3 linked regions of the Homo sapiens genome follow. The protein of the gene in region 1 purifies or fractionates together with the protein of each later gene. This does not show direct contact. Each region holds a gene or a part of one and is shown on either strand. Other genes may lie near its edges.

Region 1 (3,362 bases):
CAATGAAATGCAGAAGCTCTGTCATAGAGATGTTTTTGGAGATAACTGAGTACTGTAGATAATTAACTGGATCAAACTGTCCTAAGAAGAAACCTCACTTTTCAGTAGACTCTGTGTTGCCTACTTTACCATTTCAAAATCCACAGATGTCACAATTTTTTTGTTTGTTCATTTGTTGTTTTTGAGACAGGGTCTTGCTCTGTTGCCCAGGTTGGATTGCAGTGGTGTCATCATAGCTCATGGCAGCCTCCAACTCCTGGGCTCAAGTGATCCTCCCACCTCAGCCTCCCATGTAACTGTGACTTCAAGAGTTGTGCTACCACACCCAGCTAATAAAAAAAATTATTTGTAGAGATGGGTCTTGCTTTGTCCAGGTTGGTCTCAAACTCCTGGCCTCAAATGATTCTCCTCCCTTGGCCTCCCAAAGTGCTGGGATTAAGGCATGAACCTCTGCGCCTGGCCTAAATCGATTTTGAAATGAGCTTTCCCTTTAAAACATCACTGTTCACCTCAGGAAGCTAGAATTCATGGAAGCCTGTTTTCAGCCTTTCTTCTCATTGGTTTTTTTCAAGCTTTGGTAAATAAACACCAAGGGGAAGCCTGCCCCTTGACTCCCCTTGAAATAGAACGAACATGCTGTAAAGTTTGAATCTCCCTTGTTCCTGGAAGAAATGCTAAAATCCATTTTTCAAAACAACAGGCTAGTAAAATTTTCTTCCTTTTGATGGCGCATTGAGCTTTTTAGTGATTAGGAAAGAGCTGTCAGAAAAAATGATGGCTGCCCCTAAAATCTTGTTTAGTGAAGACCTTCCTAAAAAATCTGTTTTTAGGAGTAGTATCACAGATTTTATGCAGTTTGTTAAATGTCACCAAGGACACTTGGTAAGAATGAGTGGAGGCAGAGGTGAGACCGGAGGAGAACCCGCGACCTTCTGTGGCTCCCCCGCAGCTGACACTAGCAGGCGTGAGCTCACATCATTGCCTGGGTCAGGCCTGGATTGTTAAGGGGTGCTGAAGACAGTTGTATGGTCGTGACTGCTGTGGGTGGGGATTATCCCTGCCCTCCACCTGACCATCCATTCTGCGTGCCCACGGATGCCCCTTTTTGAGGTTGTGAAAGTCCCTGTCACTGATGAGCTATCCTGCTCTGTTCCCTTCCTTGTGGGTGACCGTATATCCTCATTCTTAGAAACCCTCTCCTGTTTGGAGGGTGGAACACGGAAATGGAAACGTTCTTCTAACTTTGTATTTCACTACTGAGTTCCCCTTTTTTTCTTTTTCCAGTCAGATATGTACAGCTTGGGTGTGGTCCTGCTAGAGCTCTTTCAGCCGTTTGGAACAGAAATGGAGCGAGCAGAAGTTCTAACAGGTTTAAGAACTGGTCAGTTGCCGGAATCCCTCCGTAAAAGGTGTCCAGTGCAAGCCAAGTATATCCAGCACTTAACGAGAAGGAACTCATCGCAGAGACCATCTGCCATTCAGCTGCTGCAGAGTGAACTTTTCCAAAATTCTGGAAATGTATGTGCTTTTCTTTCTCTTGGTCCTGGAGTGAAGGTGGTTTTTATTGCCTCTCTTGGGGAAGGAAGCGGTTGGGTGGTGCCCCCGGAGGCTGGGGCTGGAAGAGCCAGATGATGGTTCTGGAGGCGGGGCCTGTTTGTTCTCGTCCACTTCCTGGCACTCAGCTGCAGGGTGTGCTGGCAGGACTCACTCCCCTTGGGGTAGCAGCTGTGGCCTCAGCAGGCACAGGAGGTATCTGCTGGTGTTCACAAAGAGGAGCGGAGGGCTGGGGGCCAACCCCACAGCGAAGGCCGGTAGGAAACTTCCTGGGGCCTGGTGGGTGAGACTCCTTCCCGGAAAGGCCGGAGGGGCCCGCAGGGTTTGCACCTTCTCATGGCTAGGCCTTTAGATGTCCAGGTCAAACTCTGACCCTTCACCACCTGCCTGCTGTTCTGGGCTGTCTGTATGTCTGCCGGGGGCTCATCACTGGCAGGGCTGGTGACCCCGGAAGTGGTGGGCGGGTCCCTCGAGGGTGTTTTGGTCACTGGTGAGTTCAGCACTCTATTGGGAATTTCCAGTTGTACATGATCCTGGTACCTCCCCGGGTAGTGCTGAAGAGTGTGCCCGATGGGGTTGCTGCATTCCCTGCGCAGTACACAGTCATTGGACCACCGGGGAGAGGCAGGGGTGGCCTGGCGTGGGGGTCCGGCTGCAGCTGCTGCCCTGGACATGGTCTCTGTACATGTTTTTTTTTTAAATGCTGAGGAAAATATGAAGCTTAAAATAGAATTTGTTCAAATTGTGAATCCTGGCCAGGCGGGGTGGCTCATGCCTGTAATCCCAGGCATGGGATTTTGGGAGGCAGAGGTGGGAGGATTGCCTGATGTTAGGAGTTCAAGACCAGCCCGGCCAACATGGTGAAACCCCATCTACTAAAAGTACAAAAATTAGCCGGGCGTGGTGGTGCACACCTGTAATCCCACCTCCTTGGGAGGCTGAGGCAGGACAGTCACTTGAACTGGGAGGCGGAGGTTGCAGTGAGCTGAGATCACACCACTGTACTCCAGCCTCGGCGAAAGAGCGAGACTCCGTCTCAATATAAATAGTGAACCCTGTTTCAGTGAATAGTCGAGCTTAGACTCATATTTGTGCAAACAAAATATTTAAACCCATTCTCAGAGTTCCCTGACTGTATCAAGCACTAGGTTGAATACCAGTAGCATGCTTATATTCATTGTCCACGTAAGCAGGTTGACTCCCCACCGCCTGTCTACTCTAAGAGTTACAAGCATTGGGCGTGGTGGCTCACGCCTGTAATCCCAGCACTTTGGGAGGCTGAGGCAGGCGGATCATGAGGTCAGGAGTTCAAGACCAGCCTGACCAACATGGTAAAACCCCATCTCTACTAAAAATACAAAAATTAGCCGGTGTGAGCTACCATGCCCAGCCACAGATGTGGTTCTTGAAACCAAGTATAAACATTTATCTTCATATATGAAGGGGATTTTCTGATGCTCAGTTAAGATAGCTATTAGAGACCATAGTTATTTAGTATTTATGGTAAGGATTTCTACTATCTTGCAAAAGTTTTTTGTATAAAATGAAACCTTGGCTGGGTGTGGTGGCTCACACCTGTAATTCCAGCACTTTGGGAGGTCGAGGCGGGTGGGTCACTTGAGGTAAGGAGTTTGAGACCGGCCTGGCCAACATGGCGAAACCTCATCTCTACTAAAAATACAGAAACTAGCTGGGCTTGTATGAGAGCGCCTGTAATCCCAGCTACTTGGGTGGCTGAGGCACGAGAATAGCTTGAACTGGGGAGGCACAGGTTGCAGTGAGCCAAGATCATGCCACTGTACTCCAGC
Region 2 (3,648 bases), on another chromosome or scaffold:
GGGGCAGACGGGACAGCAGTGTGAGCACACTGATGCTCGACATCGCACACTGCAGCCACGACGAGACAGCACCACACACCCATCAGGATGGGGCAGACGGGACAGCAGTGTGAGCACGCTGATGCTCGACATCGCACACTGCAGCCACGATGAGACAGCACCACACACCCATCAGGATGGGGCAGACGGGACAGCAATGTGAGCACGCTGAGATGCTCGACATCGCACACTGCAGCCACGACGAGACAGCACCACACACCCATCAGGATGGGGCAGACGGGACAGCAGTGTGAGCACACTGATGCTCGACATCGCACACTGCAGCCACGACGAGACAGCACCACACACCCATCAGGATGGGGCAGACGGGACAGCAGTGTGAGCACACTGATGCTCGACATCGCACACTGCAGCCACGACGAGACAGCACCACACACCCATCAGGATGGGGCAGACGGGACAGCAATGTGAGCACGCTGATGCTCGACATCGCACACTGCAGCCACGATGAGACAGCACCACACACCCATCAGGATGGGGCAGACGGGACAGCAGTGTGAGCACGCTGATGCTCGACATCACACACTGCAGCCACGATGAGACAGCACCACACACCCATCACGATGGGGCAGACGGGACAGCAGTGTGAGCACGCTGATGCTCGACATCGAATACTGCAGCCACGATGAGACAGCACCACACACCCATCACGATGGGGCAGACGGGACAGCAATGTGAGCACGCTGATGCTCGACATCGCACACTGCAGCCATGACGAGACAGCACCACACACCCATCATGATGGGGCAGACTGGACAGCAATGTGAGCACGCTGAGATGCTCGACATTGCACACTGCAGCCACGATGAGACAGCACCACACACCCATCAGGATGGGGCAGACGGGACAGCAATGTGAGCACGCTGAGATGCTCGACATTGCACACTGCAGCCACGACGAGACAGCACCACACACCCATCAGGATGGGGCAGACGGGACAGCAGTGTGAGCACGCTGATGCTTGACATCGCACACTGCAGCCACGATGAGACAGCACCACACACCCATCAGGATGGGGCAGACGGGACAGCAGTGTGAGCACGCTGATGCTCGACATCGCACACTGCAGCCACGATGAGACAGCACCACACACCCATCAGGATGGGGCAGACGGGACAGCAATGTGAGCATGCTGAGATGCTCGACATTGCACACTGCAGCCACGATGAGACAGCACCACACACCCATCAGGATGGGGCAGACGGGACAGCAATGTGAGCACGCTGAGATGCTCGACATTGCACACTGCAGCCACGACGAGACAGCACCACACACCCATCAGGATGGGGCAGACGGGACAGCAGTGTGAGCACGCTGATGCTTGACATCGCACACTGCAGCCACGATGAGACAGCACCACACACCCATCAGGATGGGGCAGACGGGACAGCAGTGTGAGCACGCTGATGCTCGACATCGCACACTGCAGCCACGATGAGACAGCACCACACACCCATCACGATGGGGCAGACGGGACAGCAGTGTGAGCACACTGATGCTCGACATCGAATACTGCAGCCACGACGAGACAGCACCACACACCCATCAGGATGGGGCAGACGGGACAGCAGTGTGAGCACACTGATGCTCGACATCGCACACTGCAGCCACGACGAGACAGCACCACACACCCATCACGATGGGGCAGACGGGACAGCAGTGTGAGCACGCTGATGCTCGACATCGCACACTGCAGCCATGACGAGACAGCACCACACACCCATCATGATGGGGCAGACTGGACAGCAGTGTGAGCACACTGATGCTTGACATCGCACACTGCAGCCACGACGAGACAGCACCACACACCCATCAGGATGGGGCAGACGGGACAGCAGTGTGAGCACGCTGATGCTCGACATCGCACACTGCAGCCACGACGAGACAGCACCACACACCCATCAGGATGGGGCAGACGGGACAGCAGTGTGAGCACGCTGATGCTCGACATTGCACGCTGCAGCCACGATGAGACAGCACCACACACCCATCAGGATGGGGCAGACGGGACAGCAGTGAAACACCAAATACTGACCAGGTGGAGAAACCGATCAGCTCTGCATTGCTGGTGAGAACCTAAAACGGTGCAGCAACTCGGGAAACATTTCAGCCCTTCTTAAAAAACTAAACGTGCAACCTCCATAAAACCCAGTAATTTCACTTCTGGCCCTTTATCCGAGAGAAATGAAAACTTACATCGACACAAAAACCTACACAAGAATGTTTATAAGAGCTTTATTCATAACAGCTGAAAACTGGAAAGGACCCAGATGTCTTTCAGTGGTTAAACACACTGTGGTACGTCCATGTCATAAAACACGACTCAGCAATGAAACTATCTATGAACTACTGATACAGCAACAATCTGCATGGACCTCAGGGGGTTATGCTGAATGAAAAAAGTCAACCCGAAAGGTTATATACTGTTTGATTCCATTTACATAACATTCTTGAAATGACAAAGTTCTGGAGATGAAGAACAGATCAGTAGCTGCCGGGGGCTATGGAGGGAGGGGCGGTACACAGGGCAGCACGTGAGGCCCCAGGGATTGGGGTATCTTGACCGCATCCTGGCAGATGTCTTGGCTGTGACACTGCACTATCGTTTTGCAGATGCTTCCACTGGGGAAAGCTGGGTAGAGGGTACACGGGCTCTCTGCATTACTGATGACAACTGCATGTGATTTACATGACCCCAAAATAAAATATTTAATTAAAAGAAACTGAGTTGGGCCCAGTGAACTCAACCAGTCCCTTTCAGCTCTAAAACTATGTTTTCTGGGTCAGGGGAGGAAACAGGAGGTACAGGAACACTAGAGGGGAGAAAGCACGGAGAGATGGGAAAAGCACGGAGAGAGAGATGGGGAAAGGGCAATCAAGAAGACTGAGAGAAAAGGGGGGAAGCAGAATGACAGAGGAGGTGTGAAGAGAGAGAAGCCCTCTGGAGTGCTGAAATACTGAATATTCTCCCCTGGGAGCTACTCAGGGTAAGAATTTCTCCAGGGACTGCTCTTTCGGGCAAGCACAATTACACACATTTCTATGTTATGTTAAGTAAAAATCTAGTAAATGGGCTGGGCACGGTGGCTCACACCTGTAACCCCAGCACTTTGGGAGGCCGAGGCGGGCAGATCATGAGGTCAGGAGATCGAGACCATCCTGGCCAATGTGGTGAAACCCCGTCTCTACTAAAAATACAAAAATTAGCTGGACGTGGTGAGGGGCGCCTGTAATCCCAGCTACTCGGGAGGCTGAGGCAGGAGAATCACTAGAACCAGGGAGTCAGAGGTTGCAGCAAGCCGAGATCGCGCCACTGCACTCCAGCCTGGCGACAGGGCAAGACTCCGTCTCGAAAAAAAAAAAAAATTCTAGTAAATGAAGCGAGTGATCAGGACAAAACTAGCCTCTCATCAATAAATCAACCAATAGCGCTTATCAAGTATTCATATGTCTGCCTCTTCTTCTAGACTACACTAGGGGCTGGTTAACGCTCCTATGTGCAACAGAACCTCAAACACATCGTAACACACCTTTGGAGAATCCTTACAAGAACACCAACTTAACAGTTCTCTCTGACCACACTACCTC
Region 3 (3,648 bases), on another chromosome or scaffold:
GAAAAAGAAAAATAATATATATAATTAATCTACTATTTTATTTTATTTTATTTTTTTTGAGACGGAGTCTCGCTTTGTCACCCAGGCTGGAGTGCAGTGGCGCAATCTCAGCTCACTGCAACCTCCACCTCCCGGGTTCAAGCGATTCTTCTGCCTCAGCCTCCCGAGTAGCTGGCACTGCAGGCGCCCGCCACCATGCCCAGCTAATTTCTGTATTTTTAGTAGAGACGGGGTTTCACCGTGTTAGCCAGGATGGTCCCAATCTCCTGAACTTGTGATCCGCCTGCCTTGACCTCCCAAAGTGCTGGGATTGATTACAGGGGTGAGCCACCGTGCCTGGCCTATTAATTTATTTTAGGGCCGGGGTGTTGCTCTGTCGCCCAGGCTGGAGGGCAGTGGCGCAATCATCGCTCACTGCAGCCTCCACCTCCTGGGCTCATCATCCTCCCAGCTCAGCCTCCCAAGTAGCTGGGATTACAGGCATGCACCACCACGCCTGGCTAATTTTTAAAAATTTTTTCGGCCGGGCACGGTGGCTCACGCCTATAATCCCAGCACTTTGGGAGGCCGAGGCAGGTGGATCACGAGGTCAGATCGAGACCATCCTGGCTAACACGGTGAAACCCCGTCCCTACTAAAAATGCAAAAAAAAAAAAAAAAAAAAAAATTAGCCAGGCGTGGTGGTGGGCGCCTGTAGTCCCAGCTGCTGTGGAGACTGAGGTAGGAGAATGGCGTGAACCCGGGAGGCAAAGCTTGCAGTGAGCTGAGATTGCGCCACTGCACTCCAGCCTGGGTGACAGAGCGAGACTCTGTCTCAAAAAAATAAAAATAAAAATAAATAAAAATAAAAAAATTTTGTGGAGCAGGGGCCTCGCTATGTTGCCCTGGCTGGTCTCAAACTCCTGAGCTCAAGTGATCCTCCCACCTCAGCCTCCCAGAGATTACAGGTAAAAACTGCACCCAGCCTGGGGCCTCACCCTTTGAGGGGCTCGATGACAGTGGCTCCCGTGTAGTCCTCGCCGCCCTCTGACTTCACCACGGGCATCAGCAGCCCCTCGTGCATGGCCTGGGAGGGGAGAAGGTGGGAAATGGAGTGGGTATAGGTGGGGCCGTGCGGATTGGGAGTGGGGAGAAAAAGTGCATCCAGGATGCCATTGCCTGGAGGGGGCCACAGACGTGCCTGGTGGGGGGTGGCGAGGACAAGTCTCGGCTACTGACCTGCCGCAACAGCTGGGATACGACCTTGACCTGCTGGCCACGACTGAGCAGGTAGCTGAGGGGCACGCCAGTGACCCTCGCCATCTCCACGGCGTTCACCAGCACCATGAGCCGCTCCAGCAGCCGCAGTGGCAGGTAGGCATCCTTCAGGCAGTACACAGCCAGGCGGCGGCGGGTCTGGTCGTTCCCATTCTGGGGATGGGCACGGATGGGGTCAGGGACCAGGGGTTGGGGGTGGGAGGTGGAGCAGGAGAAGGAAGTGGGGGTCAGGGTGAGGTAGCCTGGGGAGGGCCTGGGAGGTGAGGCGGGCAGGAGGGCCCTCCAAGTCGTCAGGGTCTGGGTGGGGATGGAGGTAGGGTTGGGGGCCAGGGAGTCCACAGGGCCAGAGGGAGGAGGAGGGAGCAGCCTGAAGGCCACCGTGGACCTGTGGTCAGGCCAGGAAAGCAGAGACAAGGTCATAGTGACAGAGGTCACAGGAGTGGAGAGAAATCTGGGGTCAGAGGTCAGGAAAAAGTGGGCGTCAGGTAAGGTCACAGGTCATAACAGCAGGTCAAAGAGTGAGGTCAGACGTGGGGGCGTGAAGTTGAGGTCAGAGGCCGGGGAAGGGTGAGGTGGAGGTCAGAGGTTGGGGTGAGAGGTCAGGGAGGCAGCAGGCACCTGCAGGTCGGTGATGATGCTGTGCTGCACGTCCTCCTTCTGCTCGCCCAGGAAGTGGAAGCTCACGGCATTGAGCGTGTAGGAGCGGAGCTTGTACTCCCGCAGCAGCACCTAGGTGGGTGGGTGGGCTGGTGGGCTGCGGGCCTGGGCAGTGGCCTTCCAAGGACAGGGACACACCCCACCTCCCGCCCATACCTGCAGCATGTCCATCTGCACGCGGCCCACCATGCTGACAACCTTGGTGTCCCGCCGGCCCGTCTGCTTGGACTGGAATGAAGAGTCCCGGATGTTGGAGCAAAGGCCGGCCACACGGCCCAGGAAAGGGAATGTTTGTACCTGAGGAGGAGAGGCAGGGTGTGCAGCAGGCTGCGGGTCCCCGTCACATAAGCCTGAAGAACGGAGATTGAGACCAACCACAACATCCTTATAACAACCCTAGGGGGTCGAGAGCAACCCTGGGGGCAGAAAGACGGTCTGGGGCTGGGTGTGGGTGGCTGGAGACTGGGGAGGGAGTCCGGAGTAAGGACTAAGCTGCAGCCAAGGCTGGGATAGCGAGAGTCAGGGGCCCTGATGGACTGGGGGCCAAGGATGGAGCCCAGTGTCTGCGGGCTGTACCTAGGCAGGAAACAGGAAGAGATTTGGGGACACTGTGAGCAGGCGGCCAGGTGGGGGCAGAGGCAGGAGGCGGCGTGGAGCTGGGCTGAGATGGATGCTGAGGGCGCTGGAGGGCGCCTGGCTGCAGGAGGCCTTGCAGGGTGCTGGGGCCCAGCCTGGGGGAGACTGAGGCCAGAAGAAGCCTGAGCTGGGGACAGGGCAGAGGGTGAGGGACACCCAGGGAAGGGGAGGAGGAGTACCATGGCCCGGGCATCAGCGCCACGCTGTGGAATATACACTGGGGGTCCTAAGAGTTTGTTCTGTATTTTAGAATGGATTTTTTCTTGTTTTCTCTTTAATAGAGGCAGGGTCTTGCTATGTTGCCCTGGCTGGTCTTGAACTCCTGGGCTCCATCGATCCTCTCGCCTCATCCTCCCAAAGTGCTGGGATTAGAGGCGTGAGCCACCACACCCAGCCTGTTTTGTTTTTCCATTACCAAGCTGGCCAGACATAGAGAAAAGCAGGAAAATAAGGCAATATATCTCATTAAGGGCTGAACCATGTTCTCCCAAAAGATGTTGAAGCCCTAACCCCCGGCACCTCAGAATGTAACCTCATTTGGAAATATGTCTTCGCAGGGGGTCAAGTGAAGATGAGGTCACTGGGGTGGGCCCTCACCTCACGACGGTGTCACTACACAAAGAGGACATGTGGGCTAGGTGCACTGGCTCACACCTGTAATCCCAGCACTTTGAGAGGCTGAGGTGGGCAGATCACCTGAGGTGAGGATGGAGACCAGCCTGGCCAACATGATGAAACCTAGTCTCTGCTAAAAAAAACAAAAACAAAAACAAAAATAGGCCAGGCGCGGTGGCTCACGCCTGTAATCCCAGCACTTTGGGAGGCCGAAGTGGGCAGATCACCTGAGATTGGGAGTTCGAGACCAGCCTGGCCAACATGGAGAAACCCTGTCTACTAAAAATACAAAATTAGTCGGGCATGGAAGCGGGTGCCTATAATCCCAGCTACTTGGGAGGCTGAGGCAGGAGAATCACTTCTACACCCCAGCGCCCCCTGGGAGGCGGAGGTTGTGGTGAGCCAAGATCGTGCCATTGCACTCCAGCCTGGGCAACAAGAGCGAAATTCCATCTCAAGAAACAATAACAAAAAAGCAAAAAT

What was found.
Region 2: the proteins of EIF2AK1 (region 1) and CCDC127 purify together in Homo sapiens (co-immunoprecipitation; one large-scale study listed by IntAct). This does not show direct contact.
Region 3: the proteins of EIF2AK1 (region 1) and POLD1 purify together in Homo sapiens (affinity purification with mass spectrometry, with the first as the bait; one large-scale study listed by BioGRID). This does not show direct contact.

The regions. Positions count from the first base shown.
Region 1 is NC_000007.14:6,024,884-6,028,245, reverse strand, and holds part of EIF2AK1 (eukaryotic translation initiation factor 2-alpha kinase 1), read left to right. Parts: intron 1-1,284; coding exon 1,285-1,518; intron 1,519-3,362. UniProt on the Homo sapiens protein: Metabolic-stress sensing protein kinase that phosphorylates the alpha subunit of eukaryotic translation initiation factor 2 (EIF2S1/eIF-2-alpha) in response to various stress conditions.
Region 2 is NC_000005.10:211,616-215,263, forward strand, and holds part of CCDC127 (coiled-coil domain-containing protein 127), read right to left. Parts: intron 1-3,648.
Region 3 is NC_000019.10:50,404,745-50,408,392, reverse strand, and holds part of POLD1 (DNA polymerase delta catalytic subunit), read right to left. Parts: intron 2,212-3,648; coding exon 2,071-2,211; intron 1,987-2,070; coding exon 1,876-1,986; intron 1,411-1,875; coding exon 1,219-1,410; intron 1,067-1,218; coding exon 978-1,066; intron 1-977. UniProt on the Homo sapiens protein: As the catalytic component of the trimeric (Pol-delta3 complex) and tetrameric DNA polymerase delta complexes (Pol-delta4 complex), plays a crucial role in high fidelity genome replication, including in lagging strand synthesis, and repair.